2 separate regions of the Homo sapiens genome follow, and region 2 is linked to region 1. Evidence: fine-mapped expression QTL. A gene starts in region 1. The other region holds a variant in brackets. All regions are shown on one strand. Distances are between the middles of the regions.

The links. PIP is the estimated chance that this variant, and not a neighbour inherited with it, causes the effect.
Region 2: its variant is fine-mapped to the expression of TBC1D2B in whole blood (INTERVAL, PIP above 0.99).

What each region holds. Positions count from the first base shown.
Region 1 is chr15:78,069,614-78,086,929 of GRCh38, forward strand. TBC1D2B (TBC1 domain family member 2B) reads right to left here and starts at 8,098. Exons shown (of 13, transcript NM_144572.2): 1 at 7,680-8,098. The coding sequence starts at 8,039. RefSeq lists silencers at 7,574-7,773, 7,974-8,183, 8,334-8,383 and enhancers at 14,399-14,899, 14,423-14,482.
Region 2 is chr15:78,036,513-78,050,773 of GRCh38, forward strand. TBC1D2B (TBC1 domain family member 2B) reads right to left here. Exons shown (of 13, transcript NM_144572.2): 3 at 8,388-8,556. Among named protein-coding and RNA genes, the nearest start is that of TBC1D2B, 34 kb to the right of the region's middle. RefSeq lists a silencer at 10,809-10,888. The variant A/G (reference allele first, on the strand shown) is at 9,085.

The DNA of each region.
Region 1 (17,316 bases):
GGGAAGCCTTGTGGGAAGTGATTTAAGTCATGAGGGCAGAGCCCTCTGGAATGAGATCAGGGTCCTTATGAAAGAGGCCAGAGTGGTAAAAGGAATTTGAGGAGAAAAATACATTTAGATAGATAGATACATACATACATATATACAAACATACATAGATGGAGGCCCCAGAAGGAACTTGTCTGTCCCCTTCTGCTATGAGGACACCACTAGAAGGCACCACCTCTAAAGCAGAGTGAGCCCTCACCAGACACCAAATCTGCTGGTGCCTTCATCTTGGGCTTCCCAGCCTCCAGAACTATGAGAAATAAATTTCTGTTGTTTATAAGCTACCCTGTCTACGGTATTTTTTCACAGCAGCACAAATGGCCTAAAACAATCTATCTGGGAGCAGAAGAAAGAAAACAAAAACCTATTTGTCAAACCCTGCTTAAAACTCTTTACTGACTCTAGCTCTTAAGATGAAGACCAAAATCCTGCCCTGGCCCAAGGCCTGCCTCTTCCAAAGGCTATGTCCCCTTCACTCCTAGTTGCCACCAGGCACTCCTTGAGTCCCACATGCAACCAGCACCCCCACCTAAGGGCCTCTGCTTATGCCATTTCCTCTCCCTACAACACTTGACTTCCTCCTCTCCACCCCCACCCCCGCTCCAGTCAACACCAACTCATCCTTTGAGTCTCAGCTCAAATGTCGCTTCTTCAGGAAAGTCTTTCCTAGCCCTCCACCAACCATAAACCAGATCAAGATCCTGAACTATACATGCATTGCATATCTTTCCTTTCAAACTTCCTAGCACTGGTTGGTGTTTGTTATATTTTATTAACGTCTGTCCCCCCCACCTACTGAAAGCTCCAGGAGGACAGGGACTGTTTGTCTTGTCCAGTCATATCCCCAGTGCCTAAGCACACACAGTGAGTGAATGAGTGGGAAGCTCCTGAGGCCTTCCTAGAACACAAGTCAGTGAACTACAGCCTGCGGTCATTTCCAGTCTCTGCCTATTTCTGTACAATCTACAAGGCAAGGGCAGTTTTAACATTTTTATTTTGCTATTTTATTTTTTTGAAACAGGGTCTCCCTCTGTCACCCAGGCTGGAGTACAGTGGAGCAAACACAGCTCACTGCAATGTCCACCTCCTGGGATCAAGCAGTCCTCCTGCCTCAGCCTCCCAAGTAGCTGGGACTAAAGACATGTGCCATCATGCCTGGCTAGTTTGTTTTTTGTTTTGAGACAGAGTTTCGCTCTTGTCGCCCAGGCTGGAGTGCAATGGCGCCACCTCAGCTTGCTGCAACCTCTGTTTCCTGGGTTCAAGCAATTCTCCTGCCTCAGCCTCCCAAGCAGCTGGGATTACAGGCATCCGCCACCACACCCAGCTAATTTTGTATTTTTAGTAGAGACAGGGTCTCACCATGCTGGTCAGGCTGGTCTCAAACTCCTGACCTCAAGTGATCCACCCACCTCGGCTTCCCAAAGTGCTGGGATTACAGGCGTGAGCCACCACATCCAGCCACACCTGGCTAGTTTTTTTTAATTTTTGTAGGGATAGGGTCTCACTTTGTTGCCTAGGCTGGTCTCGAACTATTGGTATCAAGTGATCCTCCCATTTCGGCCTCCCAAAGTGCTGGGATTACAGGAGTGAGCCACTGTGCCCAGCTAACATTTTTAAATGGTTGAAAAAAATCAAAAGAATATTTTGCGAAATGTGAAAATTATATGAAATCCAAATTTCAGAGTCCATAACTAAAAGTTAAAACACAGCTATACTCATTCTGTGGTTGTTTCTGTACTACAACAGCATAGTGACAGATATGGCAGAGTGCGCAAAACCTAAAATAGTATGTGGCCCTTTACATAAAAAGTTTGCCTCTGCTATAACAGTGTCCTTGGAGTCCTGACCATGGGCATGAAATATATGAGACCCGAAAATATGGAACTGACTGTAAGCTCTCTCCTCTGGGGAAGGGTGAGTCATAACCCCCTTTTGGATTCCTGATGTCTGTTAAATTCAGTGGGCATTCACTGAATGGCTGCCACCTCCATGACATGAGGCAAGAATGGCATGTAATACACCTGTATATTTGGGAGTTCTGGCTGATCACTTCTAAAGGGTCAGGGCTCACACCAAAACCAGTGCTTACTGGGTGACCATTTTCTATTCATTCATGCAACAAATGTCTACCTGGGCACCTTACCTTAGTCGGTTCAGGCTGTTATAACAAAAACACCACAGACTAAGTGGCTTAAACAACAGAAATTTACTCAGTTCTGAAGGCTGGAATGTCCAAAATCAAGGTGCTGGTCAATTTGGTTCCTGGCGGGGGCCCTCTTCCTGGTTTGCAAAGGAATGCCTTTTTGCTGTATCCTCATAGGTGGAAGGGGAGATCATCTCTCCAGGGTCTCTTTTTATAAAGGCACTAATCCCATTCGTGAAGGCTCCACCCTCATGAGTTAATTACCTCCCAAAGGCCCCACCTCTAAATATCATCACACTGGGAGCTGGCACTTCAACATACGAATTTTTCAGGAACACAAACACTAGTTTATAGCATGTCTCCTTTGTGCCAGATACTGTTGCAGGAGCTGAGGATACACACAGTCCTTAGGGAGCTTACCCTCTGGTTAGCAGGAAATAGGATGGAGACTCCCCTGCAATGAGGACTGTGTGAGGCAGTGGGAGAGGGAGACGGAATGCCACTGTGATATCACAAGCACAATACTGGACTTGCCTTGAAGGAACTTACTAATTGGAAAGCCATGAAAAGTTAAATTCCCATAACTTAAAGAGTTAAATAATGCTTCAAGACTGAGCAGATGCCCTAGGGCAGAACAGCTTAGAAGAACCAAACAGCAAAGGAGGCTGGTTCACCACATCTATTTTGCACTGAAAACAATATGATTACCCAAGCCGACAAATGTTTGTCATTAAGAGAAATTTCAACACCAGGGAATGTGCATTCCCACAAAAGTGGTTAAGAATAGGGGTACACAGCTATTCAGTTACGTGTGGCTCAGAAACCAGTACACATGTCTATTTAGCACCAAGCACCTACGGAGGGAGGAATTCATTTGCTGACGGTCTGATGACGCTCTCTTGCTCCAAAGTCTGCAGAGATCTGGAAGATCAAGGCTGTTTAAGCTTCACCCTCGGTCAGTCACATGCTCTCCTTCCCCTAAGTGCCTCAGATTCCAGTAAAGCTCTGTGAGAAGCCTCCAGCACCCCTACACACAGAGAGAGACGCACACAGGAAGCATCAGCCTCTGCTAGACCCTTGCAGCAGTTTCCAGACATGTCCAGCAAAAGGTACTAGGCATCCTGGTAAAGAACTGGGCAGTAAAATGTTCCCTTGTGATACCCACTATCCAAAAAGGACAGATATTAAATGCAATAGAAGGAAAGACTACTACTACGCCTTATCCGATCCCCAACAAAGTCAAAAAAAAGCAGACTTGTCAGAACAGACAATACAATTAGATACTACACATTTTAGACATTCACTATTCCTGGAGCCTCTACTTTCAGAGAGGGTCTGAGTCTAGCTTCATGATGTTGGCAAAATCACATCCCCTCTCTAGCCTCTATTACCTCATAAGGCACCAGATCAAATCCCTAAGTTTGGGAATAGAGGAGTTTCCCAAGAAATTCCTATATCAGCTTTCATTAAGACTTACATAGAAAAACATTTTGAAAAAGCCCAACAAAACCACAGCTTCTCCAGAGAGAGCTGAAAGACACTTTTAAATAAGAAAAACATATGATAATAGAATAAGAAAAGTGCTGATTTTTCTTTACTTTTTAACCCTCTGTGATAAGAAATGGTATTTGTAAAATTATATACCACTAGCTGAAGTCTGAGCAGGGCTAAATCCTAACTTAAAATCCTTAGAAATCAGGGTCTCCTCTATGGCTGGGCAGCCCTAAAGTGAAACATTAAGGCTTAAGGGAATCAGTTCTTGCATTTGAAAGACGAAAAGGAAGATAAATTGGTAATTTCCATACTTACACCATAAAGATTTTACTCCTACAGCTCAAAAGAAATAACTGTACAATGAAATTTAATTTTCTTAAAACACACGCCTGGCTGGGTGCGGTGGCTCATATCTGTAACCCCAGCACTTTGAGAGGCAGAGGCAGGTGGATCACGAGGTCAGGAGTTCGAGACCAGCCTGGCCAATATGGTGAAACCCCGTCTCTACTAAAAATACAAAAATTAGCTGGGAGCGGTGGCACGCGCCTATAGTCCCTCAGCTCGGAAGGCTGAGGCAGGAGAATTGCTTGAACCCGGGAGCCAGAGGTTGCAGTTAGCAGAGACTGTGCCACTGCACTCCAGCCTGGGCGACACAGCAAGACTCTGTTTCAAAAAAAAAAAGGGAGCAGGGTTTTAGAGTCGGGGTGTTTTTTGCTTGTTTGTTTGTTTGTTTGTTTGTTTTTAAGGTGGAGTCTCACTCTGTCGCTCAGGCTGGAGTGCAGTGGTGTGATCTCGGCTCACTGCAACCTCCGCCTCCCGGGTTCATGCAATTCTCCTGCCTCAGCCTCGCGAGCAGCTGGGACTACAGCGTGCGCCACCATGCCCAGCCAATTTTTGTATTTTTAGTAGAGATGGGGTTTCACCATATTGGCCAGGCTGGTCTCGAACTCCTGACCTCAAGTGATCCACTCGCCTCGGCCTCCCAAAGTGCTGGGATTACAGGCATGAGCCACCACGCCCGGCCTTCTCCTCCCTTCTTCCAGAAAGCCTTGCCTGATTTCCATTCCCATTGTTGTATACAGCCAACACTCGGTACTATCTTATTCTGTGACCAATTTAATTTTACATGTCAAAATATTCCTCCATTGTCAGTAACCCAAAGGAAAATGTATTTCCTTTCTTTAAAAAAAGAAATATTCTGAACCTACAAAAAGATGGATAGCATAATAGGACAAACACTGATATACCTATGACCCAGTCCAAGAAATAAAACACTGCAAAACAGGAGAAGCCCTGAGGCACCCATTCCCAATCACATCCTCCCTCTTCCCATCACAGGCAACCACTACCTGGAAACCAGAGCTCATCAGCCCCATAAAGCTCTTCCCCTCGCGAAAGAGCATACATCCTTATGATCTGTAGTACTGTTTCACATGATCTTCCTAACCTTTCTATAAGTGGTATCATTCTGAACACAATCAGTGTGTAACTTACTTCTTGTTCAATTTTATTGTTTGTGAGAGTAATCCACGTTGACACCTATAGCTCTAGTACCTTTGTTTACTACTGCATAATATTCCACTATATGAATACACTACATATTTGGCCAAAGACACTGCTTGATGTTTCATATGCCATGTAGTGCCTACTATTTTCCATACCACTATGGAAAATGCGCCAGCCATTTTCCATAACATTCTCCAGAATCCTCACAGCCACCTAATGAGGAAGGTATGATTCCCACTAGACCAAAGAGGAAACTGGAGCAGGGAACTGGTGTAATTTGTCCAATATGTGTGAGCAGCAGACTCCTGCTTCAAGTTCAAGTCCATCGAAGTTTAAAGCCACACTTCTGACAATGCGCCTTGTAACCCTGCTTATGTAGATTCTTATTTATTATTTTTTTTTTAATTTTTTTTGAGATGGAGTCTCACTCTGTCACCCAGGCTGAGTGCAGTGGCGCGATCTCTGCTCACTGCAAGCTCTTCCTCCCGGGTTCACGCCATTCTCCTGCCTCAGCCTCCCGAATAACTGGGACTACAGGCACCCGCCACCATGCCTGGCTAATTTTTTGTATATTTAATAGACATGGGGTGTCACCGTGTTAGCCAGGATGGTCTCGAGCTCCTGACCTCGTGATCCACCCGTCTCGGCCTCCCAAAGTGCTGGGATTACAGGAGATTCAGATTATTTTAATGAAAAAAACTGATAGAGTTCTACAGTCATCTGGGAAAAATGTGAAACACGATGCTCTATTTTCTTTAACAAACATCCCACAGGAAATTCGTCCGACACAGGGACAGCCCGTATGTACACTGAGGAAGAGCCTCTGCCTTTGGCAAAGGTCTCCCACTAGGGTCATTACCAAGTTTATACAGGCACTCTCTAAGTAAGCCTGTGTAGGACTGCAACCCGAGTTGGTTTTCTTTGGGGAAACAGGCTGTCTGCACCCACTTACAGACAGGACAGGGGAGCCCAAGAGAACATGGGAATCAGATCCTGCTTGAACTGGCAAAAGCTGAGTCAGCAAAGCTCTAAGAACATCTCCAGGGAGCAGCTCCAGCTGTTAGCAGCTCTGGGGGTCTGAGGAACAGTCCTCAGCTCACAAGGCCAGGAGTTTGCCTAGTCTGCTCTCCGTGTGGCCAGCTTTGAGAGCACTTTCATACATCCCAGCCCAACCCTGTTGCTCTGGAGAAAGCCCAACCTGGAATACGGAAGAGGAGTGAGAGTGAGGGTGGAGACTCACAGAAACCAGGCAGGGAGCAAAGCCTGGAAAAAGGATACCCAGCTCCAGGCCTGGGCCCAGATCCCTCCAGATGCTCAAAGCAGGTGGGCCCCTAGGAGGTGACAGTCTAGTCCCCCAGAACTCCCAAGGACAGGGGAGGCCTTTCAGCACCAGGACTCCTGACTCTACTCTCCTGCTTCTACACTGTATCTCTCATTTTGTCTGTCCACTGGAGGATTAAGGGAGCCTCAAAGGAGCAAGGCATAACTGGCTGAAAAGACCCCCTCCCACCCATCCTGGACAAAGCAAGGAGGAAGAACACAGGATCTGCCACCTACTGGCTGTGTGACCTTAGCTGGAGCATCCCCGTCCACTCTGGAGGAAAATGTAGTGGACTGTCTCTAAGGGCCCTGCCATCTGACTCTTTCTGTCTACAGTGCTAAATGCACTCTGGCTCACGCCTGGCATCCCAGCACTTTGGGAAGCTGGATGGGGAGGATGGTTTCGGCCCAGGAGTTCGAGACTAGCCTGGGCAACATAGTGAGACCCCCGTTTCTTTAAAAAAAAAAAAAAATTTAATTAGCCAGGCGTGGTGGCCCGCACCTGTGGTCCCAGCTACTTGGGAGGCTGAGGTGGGAGGATCTCTTGAGCCCAGGCATGGAGGCTGCAGTGAGCCGAGATCGCACCCCTGCACTCCAGCCTGGACAACAGAACAAGATCCTGTCTCAAAAAGAATAAATAAACAAATAAATAAAAGCACTGACATTTACTGAGCAGTTTAAAGTATAATTCATTTAATCCCAACACCCCATGAGGTAGATACTACTGTTATCCCATTTTACAGAGGAGGCCGCTGCAGCCCAGAGCGGTTCACTGAGGTACCAAGGCCATAGGCAAAGTTCTAAAGGAGGCCCCAGGGGTAGAAGCCTACGCTCACGGATGCCTGGGAAGGCTGCACAGGACATCCACGGGATGGTGGGGGTCGGGAGACACCAGAGACTGGCCCGAGGTTAGGCGCAGAGGGAGATAATGGGTCAAGGTGTCTGAGAAAGGAGACGGGGCTTGGTAGCCCCAGCGAGACTGGCCTAAGCCCAGATAGTGGGGAGGAGATAGGAACGAGGGCGGGATGTGGAGAAGCAGGGAAAGGCAGGCCGACGTGGGCAGGGGCGAGGAGGCCTTGGAGGAAGGAGGGTGGATGGCGCAAGCCAGTGGCGGAGGCAGGGGACGCCGGCGGAAGCGCGCGGGCGGCTTTGGGGCGAGCGGTCCCACCTTGAGCACCGTGACGGCTCCCGCGCTGTGCACCTGGAAGTGCGCGGGCGGCTCCGTGCCCGGCTCCGCCGCCTCGTCGGGGCCCTGGTAGCTGAAGCAGGCGTCCGCGATGTCCAAGTGGCCGAGGGGCAGCGCGTCCTGCGGACTCTTGAAATAGTAAAGGTAGCAGCGGCGCGCGTCGAACACGAACCAGCGGCTGCGGTAGCCACGCAGGGGGCCCTTGCCCGACAGCTTCTGCAGATAGCCACACAGCCGCGCTGGCTCCCGCGCCGGACCCGCCCCGGGCTCCGCGGCCGCCCCCTGCGCCGCGCCCTCGCCGCCGCCGCCGCCCTCCTCCGCCCGGGCTCCGGCCCCCGGCATCGCTACCGCGCGCCAACCGTAGGCGCCCGCGCCCTGCGCCTCCGCGCCGCGGCCGCTGCGCCCCCTACCCCCTCCGCACCGCCCCTTCGCTCCGCACGGCCCGCGGGCGCGCAAAGCACCCTGGGACTTGTAGTCTCGCCCCCGCCCGCCCGCCGGCCGTTGCCCCCTCAGCCCCCGGAGGCAGGGTCCTGCGACCAGCACCCCGCGGGTCAGTTGCCTTCGTGCCACCTGGGCTCCAAGTCCTCGCCCTGCCGGATGAAGCAATGGTCTATTTCTTTATGGCAGTGTAGGTACATGGGAGTGTGCATCTCTCAAAACCCAGCGGAGTGTCCGCTTAAAACTGCATTTCACACTGTGTATCTTATTCTAAAAACTTGATATTTAAATCTCCCTCCTGCCAGAGTCTCAAGCTAATATTGTAAAAATGAGACAGCCTATTGCCTGGTGCTGAGTGGGTGCTCAGTAAATATTTGCAGAATTCATGAAAGCCAAAGCGTTTCCTGCCTCTCCAGACCTCAGTTCATTTATTGAATTCAACATATATTTATTGAGCGCCTTCTGAATGCCGGGTACGGTTCTGTATGCCAGGCCCTGGCGGATACAGCAGTGAACAAACCAATCATTCTCCTGCCCTCGTGGAGGTTATATTCTAGTAAGGCAGGGAGGTGACACACAAGAAAGCAGATAAAAGTAATGTGTGCTATGTTGTATAAATGCCGTGATGACATGTAAATGATTACCGCTTAAAATAGCACCTAGTATTTATCAGTGCTTTATAGACTAACTTATTTGAACACTCACAACCTGAGAAGGCAAATCTATTGCTTTGTAATAAAGCAAAGAGAAAGAATGAATAAGACCAAGTATTTGCTAGCACAACAGGGTGACTACAGTCAAAAATAATATAATTGTACGTTTAAAAATAACCAAAAGAGTATAATACAGACGCGGTGGTTCACGCCTGTAATCCCAGCAGTTTGGGAGGCCGAGGTGGGTGGATCACCTGAGGTCGGGAGTTCGAGACCAGCCTGACCAACATGAAGAAACCCTGTCTCTACTAAAAATACAAAATTAGCTGGGCGTGGTGGTGCATGCCTGTAATCCCAGCTACTCGGGAGGCTGAAGCAAGAGAATCTCTTGAACCCCGGAGGTGGAGGTTGCAGTGAGCCGAGGTTGCGCCATTGCACTCCAGCCTGGGCAACAAGAGCAAAACTCTGTCTAAAAAGAAAAAAAAAAGTATAATAGGATTGTTTGTAACACAAAGGATAAATGCTTGAGGTGATGGATACCTTACTTACCCTGATTTGATTATTATGCATTGCATGCCTGTATTAAAATATCTCATGTAACCCATAAATATATACACCTACTATGTTCCCACAAGAATAAAAAATAAGTAAAAAGCAAAGTGAGAGGATGAAGTGATGGGGGGCAGATAGCAGGCTGCTGCCCCAGGACAGGCAAGGAGGCTGGTCTGATCCTGTGACATGGAGCACAAACCCAGATGATGGGAGGGACAGGGGCAACCAGAAATGTGGGTGAAGCATTCCAGGGAGAGGGAATAGTGAGTACAAGAGCTCACTTTATTCAAAGGAAAAAGGAAGTGTATAGCTACATAGCTACATTTGTGAAAGCCCAAACCAAATATCTCACCCTCATAGATTTGCATGTTTTATACAGACACACTGAAAGACCCAGGTGGAAAACTGACCTTTCTGAGCTGGACAGGGACACAAATTAGACTGCCTGTTTGGAGCCACCCAGGTAGGAAGGGCAGGTTCTGGGTCCTCACCCAGCCTGCCGACTCTCTGCAGGCCCTAAAGTGGCACCACGCAAGCATTCCTTTCCTGGGGCCCATCAGAGGTGTGGCTGACCTCTCCACCTGTCTTTGAGCACAATCAGCACAGTGTTAAGGACTGGGCTCTGACTTCACACTGACCAGATGTGTCTCCTAGCTCTGCCACTTACCAGAGGCATGACCTTGGGCAAGTGATTTAACCTCTCTGGGCCTCAGTCTCTTCATTTATAAAACAGGGTTGATAAATACAAGTAGCTATCTCGTGCTGTTGTTATTGAAAGGGTTACGTGAGAAATGCATATGAAAGTGCTTAGCACGGTGCCTCACACATAGTAAGCACTCAGCACATATCAGCTGTTATTATTATCATCTTGCAGTTAACACCGATGTCTTCCTCATCAGTCAGCAGATTCGGAGAGGGGGAATCCAACAGTCAGACCGGGCCCAGACAAGGGAGGCCAGACACTGCGGTGCTGCGGGAGTGGAGTGGGCTGCTCTCGGGAGCAAGGGGTCCCAAGTTCAATTTGGGCCTCACCATGTATGTAAAAGGGGCTGTGACTAATTGGCTTGTGGGGTAGGCAGTCAGGGTGAGGTCTGACCTTGAAATACTGTGGGAAAGGGAAGAGCTGGGAGAACCCGGTCTGTATTGCCATGGTACAGGGAGGCAACAGGACAGGGGAGGGTGTAGCCCATCTCTCCTAGATCTATCAGTAAGTTATAAGGAAGTGGGGGTGGCCATGACCTGTGGTCCCAGTGGACAGGACCAAGCCCCATGAGGTGTCTCACGGGGGCCGATGTCTGCTAGGCCCGAGGAAGGCATCCTTCACAGGCACAAGCCACGAGCCCCCCTCCTGGACTAAGAGTCTGGGCTGGCTGGCCAGGGCTAGGCAGATGGGACGGGACAGGGGTGCTGTTTTAAGCGGTAATCATCTACATGTCATCACGGCATTTATACAACATAGCACACATTACTTTTATCTGCTTTCTTGTGTGTCACCTCCCTGCCTTACTAGAATATAATCTCCACGAGGGTAGGAGAATGATTGGTTTGTTCACTGCTGTATCCGCCAGGGCCTGGCATGCAGAACCGTACCTGCTGTCTGTGCCCCTCAGTGGGCAAGCTGGACTTCAGCCTGACTCCCCTACACCTGAGCCTCCAATCCTTCCCTGGTCACCCAGCACAGATGAGCTGGGGCCATTTTAAAATGCTTGCAGGGCTGAGTGTGGTGGCTCACGCCTGTAATCCCAGCACTTTGGGAGGCCAAGGAGGGCAGATCACAAGGTCAGGAGTTTGAGACCTGCCTGGGCAACATGGTGAAAACCAATCTCTACTAAAAATACAAAAATGAGCCAGGCACGGTGGCACGTGCCTGTAATCCCAGCTACTCAGGAGGCCGAGGCAGGAGAATCGCTTGAGTCTGGGAGGAGGAGGTTGCAGTGAACCAAGATCGTGCCACTGCACTCCAGCCTGGGTAACAGAGCAAGGCTCTGTCTCAAAATAATAATAATAATAAAAATAAATAAAATGCTTGTAAGCCACTGCCCTCTTCCTTCTGGAGGCCACACCTGACATCATATCAAACATATTAAAATGCTCTACATCCCGTAGTAAACATATACATAATTTTTGCTATGAAAATGTTTTCAGGAATATCCATAATTGTGCTCTTGATATTATCTAATTATGAGTTTTCATTTTCATTTTTAATTGGCTGATTTCTTGGCAATCATCGTGTCTGTGTGGGAATTTTGGCCAAGTGAGAGAAACCTAACCTAGAAATTGTTCTCAAATGTAATGACCTTTTTTTTTTTTTTTTTTTTGGAGATGGGTCTCATTGTGTCACCCAGGCTGGAGTGCGGTGACGCTACCTCAACTCACTGCAACCTCCCCCTCCTGGGCTCAGGCAATCCTCCCACCTCAGCCTCCTGAGTAGCTGGAACCACAGGTGTGCGCAGCACCACGCTCAGCTAATTTTTGTATTTTTTGTAGAGATAGGTCTCTGCTATGTTGCCCAGGCTGGTCTCAAACTCCTGGTCTCAAGTGATCCTCCCACCTTGGCCTCCCAGAGTGCTGGGATTAAGGCATGAGCCAAGGTGCCCAGCTCTGTTATGACATTTTTATGATGACTATAAAGGTGACATGTTACATTTGTAGACATTTAATTAGATGTTCATTAATTCTAATTTTGCTGTTTTTCTTGGGTTTTAGAGCCAATACATTTTTCTTAGGCCACAAACATTTCACAGGCCTCTCAAGCAGGCAGGCCCAGGCACTGAGCTTTTTAGTATATTAGGGGATAAACTGGCCTGGCCCCTGCCTCGGTCTGGCCGGGTCCAGAATATGGCCCTCTGAGGAGGCTGCACAGACACAGGCCTGAGTCCCCAGTGAGAGTGGTAAAGTATGGAGGCCTCAAAGCCAACAGCAATGTCTCAGGAGGGTCCCCTGGAGGGCCCTGAGTCTCTGTCTACCCGACCAGGCTTAGGAAGTGGCCCAAGCCTTCCAAGGATCCCTAGAGCCTCCAGAATCAACCCTAAAACCCTCTTGACTCTCTAGACCTCCCCCAGGCCCCTCTTCCCCACTGACTCTCTCAAGACCCTGCTGAAATGCTTTTTATTTCGTGAACAAACCCTTCTCCCCTCATTCCTAGGGCCATGAGCTGAGGAGAACTAGGCAATGGGGCTTTATCTCATCTCTCTTAGTACCTCCATCTTCAGTCTGGACAATGTTTATAGTTTATGTAAATAGATATAGCTTCAGTTCTTCCCAAGGGCCTCCTACATGGAAATGTTGGGGCTGTCTCTGGTGGCTCCTAATTCCCTGAAACCCTTCGTAAATGGTTTGTTGACATCTGCAGTTCCTGAGGTCTCTTAGATTAAACAGTGATGTCCTGTGGTCAGGGCCAGCTTTATACAGCCTGTGTACCTTCCCTGCATCTAGTACAGGCATGAGAGGTGTTGAGGGGTCTGCCCTGCATGCCCATGTAAGCCCCTGCTTCCTCGAGCCGTCCAGGAACCCAGTGACCAGAAGGAAGTAACCACCCAGGAGGAAGTAGCTGGTGTTTACTGAAAAGGGGAAATTTGGGCAGTAAACTTGCTCCTACATGGCCAGCCTCTGGGAAAACCCTAGGGGAACACAGAGCCAGTGACTCATCCTAGGTCAGTCTCCCCAGAGTTGGTAGCATGTGCCCAGAGGCCTCTGAAGAAGCACTCACTGCACACTGCCTTTGTAGCTGTCAGACTCCAGGGAGACAGAGCTGGCCGAGATGCTGACCTCCCGTTGGAGGAGTGCACAGATCTGCAGGAGGCCCAGAGAGGAAAACAGCCTTATCACCTGTATGCTGTATGCCCCAGGGCATGTCCCTGCCCTCTCTGGGCTGCAGTTTTCCACCTGCACAACAAGGAGACGGATGGCTAAGTGATGTCCAAAGGCCTGCCCCTGCCTGCTCAGAAACACAACAGTGGCCTGAGACACAGCTGTGAGGGCCTGCAGTCATTCTTCCCACAGCTCTGCAGGCCAGTGGAGGCTATGCTCTTTTCAGTCCCACTGCTCAAAGCCCTCTGGACTGTTGCAGCCATCACAACCAAGCTGCCCCATCCCCTCAGGGCTCCACTCCATCTACAGGCTTGGCTGCCCACTGCAGTTGGTGCAAACATGACCCCTTTGAGGTGACACTTTTGCATCCTATGACCCTGGGCCCTGAAGGAGAAGCAGCCCTAATCGTCACCCCCATCCGGGGCACAAATGAAGGCCTTGTGTCCCTGAGGCAGACAGAAGCAGAGATAGCTGTGTTACTTGGGGGTTGGACAATGCTATCCTCGTAGGTCCTTGTGAAGGAAGTTGGCCTGATGAGGAGGGGATGGGGTGGGTGAAGAAGGTTGGGGGACTGGAGCTGTGAATGGGCCGAGCGCTGGAGGGCTAGGGGCAGGGCAGAGAAGAGCAAGCCCATCCTCAGAGCAGAGGATGCTTTGACCAGAGCACACAGCTGCCACAGGGAGACCCCAGACCAGAGAGAGGGCTTTCCAGGTATGTCCGCAAAGCTCTGAAAGGGGGCACCCTGCACCAAGCCTACTGCCCTGGTGGGAGGTTGTTGGGGGTACTGGGGCAGGGGTAGGGTGGTGGGGGAGTGGTTTCAAAATAAAGAAGGGGGCTGGGCCTGATGGCTCACACCTGTAATCCTAGCACTTTGAGAGGCTGAGGCGAGTGGATCACTTGAGCTCAGGAGTTTGAGACCAGTCTGGGCAACATGGCAAAACCCCATCTCTACAAAAAATTAGCTGGGCATGGTGGTGCATGCCTATAGTCCCAGCTACTTGGGGGTCTGAGGCAGGAGGATTGCTTGAGCCCAGGAAGTCAAGGTTGCAGCGAGCTGAGATTGCGCCACTGCACTCCAGCCTGGGTGACAAAGTGAGACCCTGTCTCTAAGTAAATAAATAAGGAACTATGGGCGCTTGGGCCAATCTCCCAGCCTCTCTGTGCCTCAGATTCCTCATCTGTACAATGGGGCATAATAACATTTACCCCTTAGAGCTGCTAGGGGCTTAAATGAGCCAGTAAATGCAAAACACTGGACACAGTCGCTGACGTACAACAAGTCTCAGTTTGGTAACTAATTCATTTAACAAACATCCCTGGCTCCTGCTCTTTGCCTCTGGCTGGTGATGGGTGGTGCTGAAAACTCACCACAAGACTAGGCCTGGCCCCACTGCAGGAAGCTCTCAGTTTTGTCAGGTGGGACAGCCTCAGAGAGAACAGCCCCAGCAAGGGAGCCCAGGGCTCTCAGACCATCTTGGACTGTGGACTCTGGCTTCCAGTAGGCCTCATTTCCCTACCAAATTGGCAGTCAAATTTGCATACCTCCTGGCTCTTTTTCTGAGAGGGAACAAATCTGAGGTGCTGGCCAATCTCCCAGCCCTGGGGCCAGGGGACCGAGGCTCAGACAGATGGAGGTCTGGGTGTCTCTGGGAGCTGATAGAGGGTAGAGGGTTGGCAGGGGCTTGGTACCAGGCAGTCAAGCCCAGCATGGGAGACAGGGAGAGTCACACTGCCCCAGGAGCAGGGGAGCACTAGACCCTGAGGAGGCAATGGGCCGCAGCTGCAGAGGCCTTGTGTCCTTCCTGTTACCACCCTGTTCCCAGGGCCTGGCGCCCGGCCCAGCACAGCGTAGTCCCCTCTGCCTTCACCTTTCTGCTTCCTAGAGGCCCTCATGCTGTCCCCTTCCCAGTGCCCCCATCACTCAGCCAAATCTGATCTCGGACACTTCCACCCTTCCCACACAAGCAGCAGGGACTAAAACCTACTTTGAGGCCAAGTCTGGAAGGTGGGGCATTTTAACTGACAGCTTAAAGAGATGCTGTTCTGATGGTGGAAGTTCAGGCATTCTTCTGGTTGGGCGAAGGGGTCTACGAAAGGAGTTTACGGCGTACTTATGTGAGCAAAGCAATGAAGAGGGAAGCGGGAAGAAGGCAGTCAGGATACATGAAGACAGGCACAGAAAAGACCCAGAAGAAGTAGATTCTGGAGTGGGAGGAATGTTTTTAAATGTGTTTCTTATTTGGAAGTTTGACTACATTGACTATTAATTTTGAATTAATGCATTTTTAAAGTATTTAAAGAATTTGGGTAGCAGGGAAAATGGCTGGAGCAATGGCATGGGAGGAGGATGCAGCATGTATAGGGGAGGAGGATGGGGTACGAGATTCTCGACTTGGCCCTGCCATGGACTTACTCCTTGTCTTGGACAGGCCATTTCCATTCTTGAGTTTCAGTGTCCCTGTCTTTATAATGGGAAAAAATGGGGACAGTAATGCTACCTTGTATACCTGCTATAAAGATGAAAGGAAATCATGTATGTGTGTATGTGAAGTACTTGGCACCTGGTAAGGGCTCAAAATCATTAGGAATCTACGGAGGACCTCTGTTTTCCCAGCTGTAAAGTGAGGGGAAGGGAGACAGGGATAGGACTAAATTGAGGAGCAAGCCCAGGGGCCCCAGCTGCCCAAGTTGCTAGGTGTACCAGGTCTCTGCAGCTGGGCCCCACGGTGGCCATCTGGCCTCCAAAAGGCTGTAGAATGAGGGTTCTCAAAATTATGGTCCTTGGCCCCTTGTCTTCCCTATGGTCCCTAAACTGATCCCAAAATCTCGTCCCTTCTCCAGCTGTCATGAGCAAACAGCAAGCAACTCTGAAGAATTTCACTTTTACATGGGACTCAGAAATACTCACTAGTGAGTCTGGATTATCTATAGCAAAATTAACTTGCGTCTTGTTCTTGCTGCTGAAACTGAGAGGTACACTGACAAGGGAGCCTCTCTGATCTAAGGGGTGGTTTTCCGCTCTGGGCTGTCAGGAGCAGAGACTACAGGCCCAGAGCCCCCCAGATGGGTGCTTTATGGCGCAGATGAGGTTGGCAATGTTTTTAAGACCGTGGTAGGTCCAGGGCACTCTCACCTTTGGAGTCTCCATCTCACTACTATCAAATATATGTAATTTTTAAATGGCATGGCCATATTTTACAATAAAAATATATATGTCTTTTGCTTTAAGCTTTTTGGAAAGGATTATTCTTATGATTTTGCTTTTGAAATGATTTGGCCTTGAGGAATTCATTTCACTTGCAATTGGTAATGATTTCTTGGCAGTCTTCTTGCACACTTGAGGATTTTTGTGAGCTAAGATAATCTGGCCTCCAAACCATTTTCAGATGTGATGAAACTTTTATGAATACGAAATGAAGCTGATGCAATATTACATAGTATAGACATTTACTTATACATTTATTCATTGTGATTTTGCATTTTTCTCCTTTTGAATTTTGGAGCCAATACTGGTTGTTTGTTTGTTTGTTTCTTCCAGGTCTCAGATCTTTTTATAGGCCCTTGGAAAGTTCCCAGCCCAGTACCTGGCCATTGTCCTAAGGATAAAATAGAACCACCTGTGTTTGGTGGGAGAAGGGCTGAGGGGGACCTCTCTGGACACTGCCCTCCCCAACCAGCAGCCATGTAGAAAGATGGCAAGACGAAGTCACTCAGTGGCCTTGAGGGACCAAAAGGATCACGATAACATTGGTGACTTCTCTGGACCAGCCATAGCCCTCTCCGCTGGTTTTTCCTGCATGCTGGGGGCCTCAAAATGACTGAAATTGAAAATATTATTCATTCATTTATTCAGTATTTACTGAGCCATAAATCAATACAACGCTTAACGAAAGCAATTTGGCATCATCTGCTAAAATGACAACTGCAAATACCCTTTGATTCAGCGATTCCACTTTCGAGAATGTGTTTCATGGATGTATTTATTCTTACACTTAATCAAATCCATATAAGGTTATCCATTGCTGCATTTTCAGGAATTAAAAAAAATTGGAAACAACTCAAATGACCATCAATAGAGGACTGGTTACAAAAATTATTATGTATTCATACAATGGAATAATATGCAGCTGTGAAAATAAGAATGGCACCCCTCTCTTTAGTCTTGT
Region 2 (14,261 bases), 35 kb before region 1:
AAGAGGAGACAGCAATGTGGCCAAGGAAGCAGTGATTTAGAGCAAGGCAGCCACAGGCCAAGGAATACCAGCAGCCACCAGAAGCTGAAGGAGGCCAGGAACTAACTCTGCCCTGGAGCCTCTGAAGAAAGCAGTCCTGCCAACACCTTAACTTAGGCCTAGTGAAGCTGAGTTTGAATTTCTGGCCTCCCAAACTATCAAACAATAAATAGGTGCTGTTTTAAGCCACCAGTGTTATGGTCACTTGTTATAGCAGCCAGAGCAAATTAACACAATTACTCTCTAGTAAGCTATCGTCCTTCAAACCAAGGACTTCGAGAGGCTGCTTTCTGTTGTGGTCCAGGCTTCAGCTGGCATTCAAGTTTGGAGCATTAACGTCCAAAGTCAGAATATATTTACTTCTGATATGATGTCTTTTGGTCTTGAGGACCTGGAAAGGTGTCATCAGAAAGACAGTTTCCAAAATACTCTAGACATTTACCTGGACAGATGAGTACATCACCCTTCCAATTTTAAGACATCAGAGCAAACACCTAATAAACATGCACAGCCTCAAAGAAACCAAACATCTAAGAAACAATATTCTTACTGTAGAACTTTCAGACAGGTACAGCTCCACAGGTTCCCTACTGTCCAAAGGGCAGACACCCCCACCCCTTCACCCTGGGAGTCCCTGGCCTCCTCAGCTCCTCTTCTATCCTCACCCCCTTAGCACCCTACGCACCTGGCACCAGAACCCATGCCACTCTTGAGACACACCCTGTTCTGACTTCCTTGCCTCTGCATGGGTGTCCTTGCACTTGCATTCCCCTTTGGACAGTCCCTCTCCATCTCTCAAGCCCTTTAAGCCAAAACTCATCTTCACAGCAAAACCATCACCGGCCTCTCCCACAACCCACACTGCAAAGAATAAGCACTTCTTCCTGGTGTGCCCAGGTAGGCCGTGACATACTGGGTTCAGCCTTGAACCGCACCCTACAGCCCCTGTGGCAGGACTCACGGGCTCGCCTGCCTGTCTTCCTGAAGAACCTTAAACAGCTGACAGCGGGGAGGGACAGCCTCTTACCCAAGGGAACATCCTCAGCCCCATCCCATAGTGGAGGGGAGAGGAAGATGCAGCAGGGTGGGAGGGAGGGCCAGCTGCCCAGCCAGGCAGTCCTGCAGAACGGGCTTCTCAAATGCAGGTGATGACCCACTGGGGGCCAGGACATCAATTAAGGAGTGAGGAAATCAATTTTGAGGGTCATGACAAGCATTTTTTTAGTATTAGAAGAGAAAATACTACTTAGCTTTACTACATGTAGCAGTGGAATTTTTCTTTCAGTTTTATTTACATAACAACAGTATACATTTACATACAAAGATGTGTATTTTCTGCTGTCAGTTCCCAGTCAAAAAAGTGAACAATGCTGTGTCAGAAGGTAACATCCTGCCCAGGAAGCCAAACAGAAAGAAAAGTGCTGAGAGGAACTGTCGTCCTGCTAGGGAAGGGAGTGTGGCACAAGGGCAGGTGGGTGTGGGCAGACCCCCCCACGAGTATAAAGGGCAGAGGATGAGAAGCCCCCAAGCAGCGGGAGCAAGAGCAGCAGAGCAACTCTGCCCCTGGAAGGGTCTGGAGCCTTCCCTCATCACTCTTCCTCAAGTCGGTGCTGGACACCCACCATGAGCCAGGCAGTGTGAGGTGCTGGGGTAAACCAGAGACAAGACAGATAGGGTCCCTGCCCCATGGAGCTCCCAGCCTTGCAAGAGAGCTGGACCACAGACAAGTACACAAAGAAATACAGAAACTACAGGGCTATGAAGGAGAAGCACGGCAGTGAGGAGTGGGAGGAACAGAGAAGGCTTCTCTGAAGAATGAGCAGAAGTAACCAGAGAAGACAGAGCCCTCCCTGCAATGGGACAGCCTGAGGCAGGGCCTGTTGGGAAGACATACACCTGAAGAACTGAAAGAAGTCAAGTGGGCCTGCAACAGAGGAAATGACAGGGGTCAGACCCCACGGGACCCTGAAGGCCATGTTCAGCAGCACAGCCTTCAGCCTAAGGCAATGAGAAGCCTCTGAAAGGCTGAGGCAGTCGATTGAATTGATTCAGGTCCCTTAGAATTGGGTCCCTGCAACAGGTGGACCCAGCACAGGCACAGGATGCAGACAGGTGCCCTTCCTCAGCCCCCAACTCTAAATACAACCGGAGACATGGCCCAATTGCTCCCTTGGTGGCCCTGGACAAGACATTAAAGTTCTCTGAGCCTCAGCTTGCCATGCTGAGTCATGGTGAAAGGTCTCCGAGTCTACAGGCCAAAGCCACTGGTCCTCTCATGACCGCAGTGATTTCCATGGAACAGTGTCATACACCGATGGCCCTTCTGATATGTGGGCCCCTGGGAGCATGTGAATGGATCAAGACCAAGAGGACTACTGGGACATAATTGCTAAGCACGACTTCATGCTCCTGGGGGCTATCAGAAAAGACCAGGTGCCATTGCACCACTGCAGAAACACACACACACCCCAGCCAACTTCCTGCAACTGCTGAAACTCCATGGGCCAAAGAGCAAGTTGCCTTCCTTTCTGCTTCCTTCTCCAGAAGTCCTGGCTTAAAAAATGTCTGTGTGAGGCAGCAGCATGGTGACTACATGCCTTGTCTTTCTTGGCAGACATAGCTGTGCCTTCCAACAAGGAAAATCACAAGTACCACATTACGGCTCCGGGACAGGAAAAACTTCCCCTAATTCACCAAACATCCGGGTGCCTGCTTTGGGCTGCGCCGGGCCCTCTGCTACGAACTGGGGCTGAAGAGAGGAGTCACTGTCATGACTTTACGGTCCTAGACACTAAAACCATAATAGATTCTTGGGAACCCCCGCCATGCTCACAAATAACTCTTTCTACCAGGCCTGAGGGAGTCAAGAGAGAAGCAAAAACAAAGGATCAGAGCGGGGCCAACTGCAGGGCCCGCAGAAGACCTATGGGAGGCAGGCCTGGAAGGATGAGCACACCTTCCCGGCTAGCTCAGCCCTTACACCTGCATTGAGAAAGGCACCCCATCCACCTGACTCAAGGAAGTGGAGACTCACTTCACCTACTGGCTCAAAAGAGACAGGGTAACAACAGTGGCAGCAATACCAGCAGGCCTGGGTTGTGTAGCCACCATTTACTGAGCACTTACAATGACACTGTGCTAGGCAGTTCTTATTTATAACCTTAACACTCACTCCCACCCATCCAGTAGAGAGGCTTACTACACACACACACACACACACACACACACACACACGCAATTTACTGATGGAGAAAATAAAGCTCAGAGAAGTTAAGTCACTAGCTCAACATCACACACCCAATAAGTAGCAGGACTGGGATTCCAAAACCTGGGCTGACTACAATATCCACAATGTGACCCCACTCTTGAACAGAACTAGAGCTGGACCCCAGGAGCCAGAGGTCCACATCAGGCCCAGCCTAGCACCCAGAGATGGGCGCACAGTCCAGGCCACAAAGCCACAGAACTTTGCTGACTGCTGTCAGCGCTGCTGCAGCCTAAGCACACCTCCTACATACACTGAAAATACACGCTCAACCGCCACACAGGCTTCCAATGCACGCTCACACGTGTGCTCAGGCATGCGCTTTCTCACTCTTGCTTGCGCACTCCCACCCCTGAGTATGCACATACACACATGGACTGGCCAGAATTTCAGCAGAGACCTAGTTCCTTCACCTGGTGTGATTTGGACTGTTGAAAAGTTAAATGAAAAATGTGGTTAAAGCAGGAATCCATATAAAAGGAACTTAAAACAAACACATGCACCTGTAAAGGTGTATGTAAATGTGCACTCATCTGCCAGTCTACTGATACACACCAGCCAAAGCCTCTTCTTGGAATCTGGGGATACTGGGCATGGTGACACGTGCCTAAATTTCCAGCTACTCGGGGGGCTGAGGTGTGAGGATCACTTGAGCCCAGAAGTTCAAGGGTTCAGTAAGCCAAGATCATGCCACTACACTCCAGCCTGGGTGACAAAGTAGAGACCCTGTCTCAAAAAATGAAAAAAGAAAAGAAAGGAAAGGAAAGGGGAGAAAGAAAGAGAGAAAGTGAGAGAGAAAGAAAGAGAGAGAGAAAGAAAAAGAAAGAAAGGAAGAGAAAGAAAGAAAGAGAAAGAAAAAGAAAAGAAAGAAAGAAAGGGGGGGAGGGAGGGAGGAAGGAAGGAGAGAGAAAAGGAAGGAAGGAAGGAAAGAAGGGAGGGAGGGAGAGAGGAAGAGAGAAAGAAAGAAAGAAGGAAGGAAGGAAAGAAAGAAAGAAAAAGCAAGAAAGAAGGAAAGAAAGAAAAAAGAAAGAAAGAAAGGAAGAAAGAAAGAAAGAAAGAAAGAAAGAGAGAGAGAGAGAAAGAAAGAAAGAAAGAAAAGGGAGGCAGGGAGGGAGGAAGGAAGAGATCAATCTGGGGATACTAACTGCAGTTCTCTGTTATCTTTCTTGGGCAAATCACATCCATTAAGACATCAGCTAACTTTCCCAATTTTGTTTGTTTCTTATTAAAAAGTGGAACAAGGCCTAACAGTTGTGAAACAATCTAAGCATAAAATCTTACAGGGTTTTAAGTTTTTTTTCTTTGATTTTTCACGATCATGTCACCCACATCCTCACAGCAATTTTTTCAGTGACTCACCTTTATCAAATTTTCCCTAAGCATTCAACTTATTTTTCCTAGAAACAACAATTCCTTTTTTATATTTCACGGGTTTAGTAAATATCTCATTGAATTACATAATTACAATAATAAGTACAACGGGCATTAACCAGTGAGGAACAAACCCAGCTGATTCTTGGTAGGTCTGTAGCTCAGCTGGTGGGGGCAGCAGGGACACAGGTGCCCTGAAGTGGCCCATTTGGTCTCATGCAGTCAGTCAGTGAGGACCATGGCTCTACTGAGGAACCTTAAAATGTCAGTTCATCAGGGGAGCTAGTTAAGAGAGTTTCAACTATACTGATAAATAGAATAAAAGAATAAACCTTCATTTATCTTTTAAGCCTTGACCATAATGTTGACAGCATTTTGAGTGCATTAAAAAATACAATTTTTGAGCCATTCATTTATAATACAGTAATCTATTTTAGGGTCACTAAAGTCTGTCTGTGCACCTAAGGCATTTTATTTAAAACTTCATAAAGCATGCCATAAGTAAAAACAAACAAAAGAAAAACAAAAAACCATAAACACTTAAGATTCATATGCCAGTCAATAAGCATTAGTGTCTACAGAAAGTGGTCCCAAAAACCTCTGTGAAGAATGGCTTTGTCATGAGCTGTGCCTCCACCAGCAACAGCAACAACTAACACTCGCCTAGTACTTCCTAAGTGCCAGGGACTGTTCTAAGCAGTTTACACATATGAATTCATCATCATGCTATCAATCTCATGATGTATGATTATTATCTTCATATTACAAATGAGAAACGGAGGCACAGAATATTAAGTAACTTGCCCAAGTTATCCAGCTACTAAGTGGCATAGCTGGGAGTTGAACTCAGGCAGCCTGGTTCTTAATCACTGTGTTACACGGCAAAGGCACAGCTGATAGAAGATAACTCCTACACTAGATTTTTCACCCTGAATGTGATCTGTCAGCTGTGACAGGCAGAAGTGACAGGCGTTCACTTTCCTAGGCAGGAGGCACTCAATCATCATCCATGTTCCTATGCTCAAGGACATGGAAAACACCCAGCATTACAGGTCTATTTCCACCTCATTCCATTATCTCACTTTGAGGGCAGATGACACAGCTTAGGTATGAAAATCTGGCAAATCAATAGTCCCCCAAATGTGTTCTTATGATGAAAGGGGGAAGGAGCACTGGGTCCCCAATTAGGAGACCTGGGTGTGTGTTCAGCTCGGCCACACACTTGCTATGTGATCTTGAGCAAGTCACTTTACCTCTCTAAGCCTCAACCTTTTAACATGTGGAATGAAGGGAGGCTCTCAGTGGTTTTCTGACACTTTTAGGAGCACAGATCCCTTTCTTTACTGAGAAGCCCAATACTTTGAAACAGAGGAAATCAGTGGTTCTCAAGCTGCAGGTACCTAGGGAAGGCAGCCCCACTGTGCCTCCCGGATGACCCCTCCCCATCCCCTGGGTGCTGGGAGATGACTGGACTTAATCAGATGGCACAGGGCAGACAGGCACATGGTGAGCAGAGGTTCTGGGATGAAGAGGAAGGCACAGAATGGCCGGAACACAGAGGCTCACAAAGTGCTAATACTGGGAACAGCTGCCCAAGGAAGAGACTAATGTCGTATCGTTGAGAACCTCAAATATCAGACCAAAGAGTTTGGAGCTGCACTTGCAGGCTGAGGGCTATCAGCGTAGGGAGATGACATGATCAGAGCTGACTCAAGAGAGAAAACAGCAAAAAGCCGATGAATGGGAGCAGAGCAGGACCAAGAAGGTGGGACTGCAGCCACAAGCCAGGATGAGGAAGGAAGGCAGGGCCCACTACAGTGATCACCCTCACAAGTGCTGGTCTTCTGAGGTCTGAGTACCCCTGACATTCAGCTCCAATATAACCTATATATATCCTATATATCCCACTCAGCTTCAATATAAACCTATGCCTTAAAAACTAAAAACACACAGAAAATAACTTTATCATACTGAATTCAACCACGAAGGTACAAAAAAGAAAGCAGTTACAGCAAAGAGGCTACTTTTTAAAACAGTGTGTCCTTGGATGGTAGCTTCTAAGAACACCCCAGCCCCATCCTGAAAAACCAGTGGGACCCCTTATGGAGCTCAGCTGGCCAACTGCATAGTGACCACTGGCTTGGACTCTACAGGACAGCAAGAAACTTCCAAGTCTCCCACAACGCACTGCCACTACAACCTTTCTCTTTTTTCATTTTTTCTTTTTTTTGAGACAGGGTTTCACCACGTTGCCCAGGCTGGAGTGCAGTGATGCGAACTCAGCTCACTGCAGCCTCGACCTCTTGGCCTCAAGTGATTTTCCCACCTCAGCCTCCAAGTAATTGGGACCGCAGGCATGCATCACCACCCCCAGCTAATGGATAAACAAAATATGGCACATTCATATATGGGAATATTATTTGGCCATAAAAGGAAATGAAGCACTGATAGTTGCTACAGCATGGATGAATCTTGAAAATATTATGCTAACGGAAAGAAGCCAGACACAAAGGTATGCACGGTGCCATTTATATGAAATGTCCACAATAAACAAATTCATAAGCCAGGGGCAGTGGCTCATGTAATCCCAGCACTTTGGGAGGCCAAGGTAGGATTGCTTGAGCCCAGAAGTTGAGACCAGCCCGTGCAAGATAGAGGGAACCCTGTCTCTACAAAATAAATAAATAAATAAAATATTAGCCGGGCATGGTGGTGCACACCTGTAGTCCCAGCTACTCTGGAAGCTGAGGTAGGAGGATTGCTTCGTTCAAGGCTGCAGTCAGCCATGAACCACGCAACTGCATGCCAGCCTGGGTAACAGAACAAGACCTTATCTTAAAAAAAAAAAAAAAACCCACCAAAAAACAAATTCATAGAGATAGAAAGTTGATTAGGAGTTGCCTACGGCTGAGGGTTGACAGAGGAGAAGGGGTTGGGGGAAATGAGAAGGAACTGCTAATGTAATGAGTTTCTTTTTGGATCGATGAAAACATTTAAAAATTGATTGTGGTGATGGAAGCACAACTCTGTGAATATACCAAAAATCATTGAATTGTACATTTTAAATGGGTGAATTGTACAGTGTGTGAATTGTATATCAATAAAGTTCTTCTTTAAAAAACAAGTCAACCATAGTGGCACATGCCTGTAGTCCCAACTACTCAAGAGGCTGAGGCAGGAGGATCACTTGAGCCCAGGACTTGAGACCAGCCTGGGCAACACAGCAAGACCTCATCTCATAAAAACCAACCAAACGAACAAAAACCAACCCACCTCTACTCTCACTAGCCCATGCACAAACAGAGAATGGAAATCCAGAGCACAGGACGTGGCCAGCCTAGTGTCTTGGAGAGGGGACTAGGCCCTAGGCACAAGAAGCCCCAGCTCTGCAGCCTGGAAGAATTGTGACCTCAGACACATACTCTCCTTCAGCCAGTTTCAGTCTCTGTAAAATGTCAGCCATATGACCTACTTCACAGAGTTGAGCAATTAAATTAAACCGTTTAAGTGTGAAACTGTTTGGCATAGTGTCAGACACAGAATAAGCATGTAATACAAGCTAAAACCACAATGATCTATGGGAAAGTATGATGTAAACAACAAAGGCCTTTGTAAGTGTAAGATAGTTTTATAACTTCATTTATAAAATTATAACATACATTATCAGAAACAACCCATTTTCAATTTCATATGCTGCTTTCTAAAGACTCACTTGAGCTCATTGCCCCACTGTTTCAAAGAGTAAAAATTAATGGAATTTGGATGCCCTGGGGCGGGCTGATTTGCAGCTTGTTCTCCCACCAGCTCTCCAGGCACAGTCTCCACAGCTAGGACATTTCTGGCTTTTTCTGCAGAAGCATTTGGGTGTGGGTAAATTAAATCTGAAAAAAAAGGTAAACAAATGTCAGTTACTCAAAGCTTCCACACGAAACTTGACATCCCACATAAAACACTGACTTGACATACTATATAAAAATCTAAACTATGTAATAGTATATTTTTAATGTATACTACATAAAAACATAATCTGTGGGTAACTCTGATGTTCTGAAACCATCTTCATCTAAACAGATCCATGTTTCTCAAAGGAAGGTTGTGACATGCCTCAAACCACCAAGTATTAACAGTGTTGGCCCAGAGAAAGCAAAGGCTAGAATTTTCCTCCAGTACTGCAGACCAATAACCCTCACCATAAACCCGTCATCAAAGTCCAATCACCTGTACTGATAAGAAACAATTTCCAGGATAAACTGTTATATAAGAAAAGCAAGGTGCAGATCAGATTATACAAGGGTCCCTTTTCTCTAAGAAAGTGGGAGAAATACAAATATAAATGTATTTGCTTGTAAAGAGTGACAGTGAAAAAATAAAGTTTGCACATCACAGAATAGCAGTTCAGTAAATTCACA[A/G]GCAAACATACTGATGCTAAAGCATGATGAAACTTCACAACACATCTTTAAAATGTAAACTTTTGAAATAGTTAAGGTGGAAATGATATGATGGTCAGGATTTACTTCAAAATAGCAACATTTTGTTACTTAACAAATACATAGTAATATTTGCTTCAGGTAACATGTTATTTGCTTGAAAATAACAAAGCAGGGTATCAATGAAACGAGGGGTAATTACTGTTCCAACTACCTAATAAACCTAGAGGTAATATTATGTTATTCTTCGTATATGTTTAAAATTTCCCATAATAAAAAGTTACTTAAAATTTTTTTGTTTTTGATAAAAACATTTTTCTTTTTTTTTCCCCCATAGACGGAGTTTTGCTCTTGTTGCCCAGGACAGAATGCAATGGCGCGGTCTCGGCTCACTGCAACCTCCTCCTCCTGGGTTCAAGCGATTCTTCTGCCTCAGCCTCCCAAGTAGCTGGGATTACAGGCACCCAGCACCACACCTGGCTAATTTTTGTATTTTTAGTACAGACGAGGTTTCACCATGTTGGCCAGGCTGGTCGCGAACTCCTGACCTCAGGTGATCCACCCGTCTCGGCCTCCCAAAGTGCTGGGATTACAGGCATGAGCCACTGTGCCCGGCTGATAAAAACATTTCTAACTACAAATACTTTGTATTCTTCCAAATAACATAATCTGCACTGGTATTTCAGTGGTAGAATTATCCCATGCCGAATGGCATAATCTCTCTGAGAATAGGACATGCTTATAAACAGAATTCAATATTACTTTACAATAATCAATTTGATCTACACTTCTTTTTAAAATATCTCTATATCAACAAAATCAACCATCTCTTTCTGTGAAATCAGAATTGACTGCTGACCACTGATATTCAAGAAAAATTATTTTCTCTTTTTTTTTTTGAGATAGGGTCTCAGTGAACACGACTCACTGCAGCCTCAACCTCCCAGGCTCATGCAATCCTCTTGCTTCAGCCTACCAAGTAGCTGGGACTACAGGCACGCACGATGCCCAGCTAATTTTTGTATTTTTTTTTTCTTTTGTAGAGACAGGGTTTGCCATATTGCCCAAACTAGTCTTGAATGCCTGGGTTCAAGCAATTCTTCCACCTTGGCGTCCCAAAGTGCTGGGAATACAGGCATAAGCCACTGTACCCAGCCAAGAAAAATTCGTTTCTAATCAGAGAAGCACACAATCAGAGTCAGCAAGAACAGGTCTCTGGTAAAGGTCACTGAGCACTGGTAAAGGAAACAGAGAGCAGGCATTCCTGTGCTGCGCAGGCTTGGAGAGCAACGTCCTGAATGCCACATGATGGGCCTGCACTGTGTAGGCAGGTTCTGACTTGACCACAATCAGTGTAGGAAGGGCTTCAAGAACACACTGGGGAAGTATCTTGGGCATGGCATGAGTAAACAAGTGCTGTGTATCTATCAGGGTAATTTGGCTCTGGCCAGGAGAGTCAATGCATGGCTTACAGTAGGGTTCTGACTAAGAAAAGCAAGACGGTGTGCTGGGAACAGAAGAATTACAGACTTGGTAACAGAGTATACACTTTTTTTTTTTTTTTTTTGAGACTGGGTCTCACTCTGTCACTAAGGCCTGGAGTGCAGTGGTGTGATCACGGCTCACTGCAGCCTCTTGAGTCAAGAGGCAAGAAGTTACAAATAACCACAGATTGCCAGTTCTTGGTTTTACTATCATGTATTAAGCACTAGGCACCGAGGGCACAACAACCAATGAGACAGAGCTTTCCCCGTAAAGGAGAACACATCCAGGAGAGAGACATAAGTAAAACAGTAACATGTCAAGCTCCAAGTCACTACAGAATAAATACATTGAGTCGTTGGGATCCAGACCCTTCCTGTGAGTCTTAGGGTTCCAGGAGATGCCTGGGGGACTTCTAGAGGGAAAAGAGGATGGGGGCCCCATGCTCAGCTTCATCCTCAGCAGTTCCTCCTTCACTCTTTTATATACTAGGGTTGCCTTTAAGATTTCATTTGGAAAAGAGGTTCCAGTAAACAAAAGAAAAAAAAGTTCAAACACCACTAATCCAGTCCAGTCTCCCTACCTACTTTCTCCATCAGGACACTAGAGTCCAGAGCCAGGGCCAGAACCCAGACACCTGCCCCTGCAGTATACAAATATTGCAAGGCAGGTAGAGATGAGTGTACCTACTAGAGAGCACAGTGTCTGGAGTGGGGGGCAGGGGGTGCTCAATGTTGGTGACACCATGTGTCAGTCTACAGGCACATGGGGTAAAGGTGCAGCTCAAACTCCTTTACTTCAAAGGCTGGTCTTACAATCATCATCACAATTCTAAGCCAAGTCAGGAAATAAACACAACAAACTGTACAGATTTCTGTTACAGGCTGAGTCCAGCCTCTTCTTCCTGTGTGGGCTAGTAGCAAGGTGATGAACGGCCCCTCTGCGAGACTGGACTGTCAAATGCTCATGTGGCAAAGTGCCTATTACCAAGAAAACCCCAGGCCTTGCAGCAACCCACAGCCCATACTGGAAATACTTCCTGAGGAACTCAGAGGCCCCAAGGAGGGGTGGAGAAAAGGGACCAGAGACCAGGGAGGAACACGTTGGAGGAAAATTTCTAAAAGTAATTATCTGACTTGAAAAAGAAGCTCTTTTCCAGCTTAATACATTTTTGCTGTTACTGTTATTTTTGTCTGGTTTTTGGTTTTTAAGAGACCACGTGAGATTTACTTAATGAAAAGCAGAGCTGCTGGCTTCTCCTCAATACATGTCCTAACATTAGCATGCAGGAAACCGCCTCAAGGAGGACACTAAGGGAAAACACAAACTAGGACATGGCAACATTTCCTCGAAGATTTTAAGAGGCTGGACTAGTGTTCATGAACATGTCTTTTGTCTTACAGCTTCAGTGGGGAAAGAAAGTCTGTGCCTGACGGTTTTTGGTGTTTAGACCTCTGTCTTTTTTAAACATTTTCAAATGCCTAAATGAAAACTCTGAGGGAGTTTCCGACTGCATTGTTCCCATTTCCTAGGTTCTGATTCCAGCACTGCCTCTAAATCCAGTGTGAACCCGGGCAGTCTCAGCCTCCCTGGTCTCCAAGAGCCCTTCCCACTTACTGCATTCTAACACATGATGCTCAAAGTCTCCTCCTAATGGGACTCCCCGCACAGGGGCGGCTCCTGCCTACAACCGGACTGCCTCAGTGAGTCTTCCCTCTCCTCTCCTGCTGTCTCAGTCAGGCCTAGGTGCTCCGCCAGCAACCTCTGCAGAGCACAGAACTGTGTACAGTGGGAGAATTCTCATAAAACTCAACCCAGGCTTGCAGCTGCATCCAAGAAAGGAGAAAAGAACACTGGGAAAGGGTTGTACCCATATGCATCAAAGCACACAGCAAACGAAAGTCTGGGTGTCAACACTGGGAGTTGGAGGAAGACAGGGTGGGTTTAATCTGAAAAAAATTTTTTTATTTATCAATGTGAGTTTTAATACAGATTGTGAAGGACCCAGTCAGGAGGAATAGAAATATCTTCCAAGTGAGGACATAGCATACATCTAAGTACCAGAAAAAAGGGGCAGCCAACCACCAGGTCCTGAGAGGCCCCAGGATGGGCCAGTCCATATGTCTGGTTAATTGCTCATTTGCCTGTCCCCTACCCCCATCAAGGACACAACTCTGTGAGAACTGAACCTCTATCTGATTTGCTAACAGCTGCATATCCAACACCTAGCATAGAGGAGTGACTTAATAAATATTGGTTAAATGACCAAATTAATCCATAAAAGACAAGAACTTGCTAACATGGCATGGGACAAAAGGCCAATTGGGCAGAAGGCAGCAAAGGCCCCTGCAGTTCTTGAGTGGGTTTATACTCATCATACTTCCTGACTTTCCTCTCTCCTGCCACCTTGCCTCTGACAGATGCCCTGAATTGGGGTGGGGGTTTCCCTGGGGTGGGGGTTTCCCTCTTTTCCTTTCCCATTCCTCCCTGTTCTCCTGCAATCTGGCTCAGCCACCACCCCACCCCCATTCACAGCCACATCAATCCCTGTATTCACCTGCACCAAGTCCCACCAAATCTAGGCTGAGGATGTCTCTGCTGACACCAAATTGCAAGCCTGTTCCACATAGACTCCTTTCCAACCCTCTCTAGCAGGCTCCTCCGAGACAGAACTGCAATCTAACCCCACTCAGCATCTCCCTCACATCCTCCCTCCCACAGTCACATTCTTTCACAACCTGACTTTCACAGACTGGTTCAGAGAGCATCTTGCTTTACAGATGGGGAAATTATGATGTGCTCAAGGTCCCATAAGCTCTCCCCATGCTGCCTCTCAGATACAACACTGGTAACTACCATGACTGATACTTCACAAGAACGCATGGTATTTTGCAGCATTTTACAAGGATTACACAAAAGCACAGCTTCCTTGATCTCTGTATGGAATCACGACATTAAAGGATGATGTGTAATTCCTGTGGCACTGCCAACGCGGGGCCTGCATTCCACCTGATGGCTTTCCTTCTGGCAGCTCTCTACACCCTGCATCCTGCACCGAGAGCACTGCTCAGGCTGCCTGAGGACTGAAAGTTACAGCTACTCCTCCCACGCCATCCCCTTGCACACAAGCTGTTAAAAGTGTAACAGTTCAACTAACCAATGCAGCTGCTTCAGGGGAGGAAATGTGTGGTCATCCTTCAAACTGTCTTCACAATACAATTTTCTGCAAGAAATACCATCCATATTCAAACAGGCACTTGGGCATTTGAGCCTGCTATGACCATGAGTGCTTTAGTACTCATGAACTTTCAAGAAGTTTTTTAAAAAAGCAGGGTGTTGTTATCCCTGGCTTGTTTTCTTATTAGTTTATGTGGGGAATGAAGTAAACGGAATGTGCTAGACATACATCCTGTAATGAGGCTATTAGCCATTTATGGGCACCTCCTTTGGGTTCTAGCTACCTCATTCTCAACAGCTATAAAGGTTTATAGACACCTGATTGTATCTTTATGCAAATTACTCTTTTATGTTGAAACTAGGTCTTTATCTATCCAGACACAGAAGACAATGTAGAATGGTATTTGAGGCATGGCATGCCTTCAGAGGGCAGGCTACAAAATAGAGGGCAGACAGAACAGATACTGACTAATAATAAAGCTGCAAGTTCCAATCACACA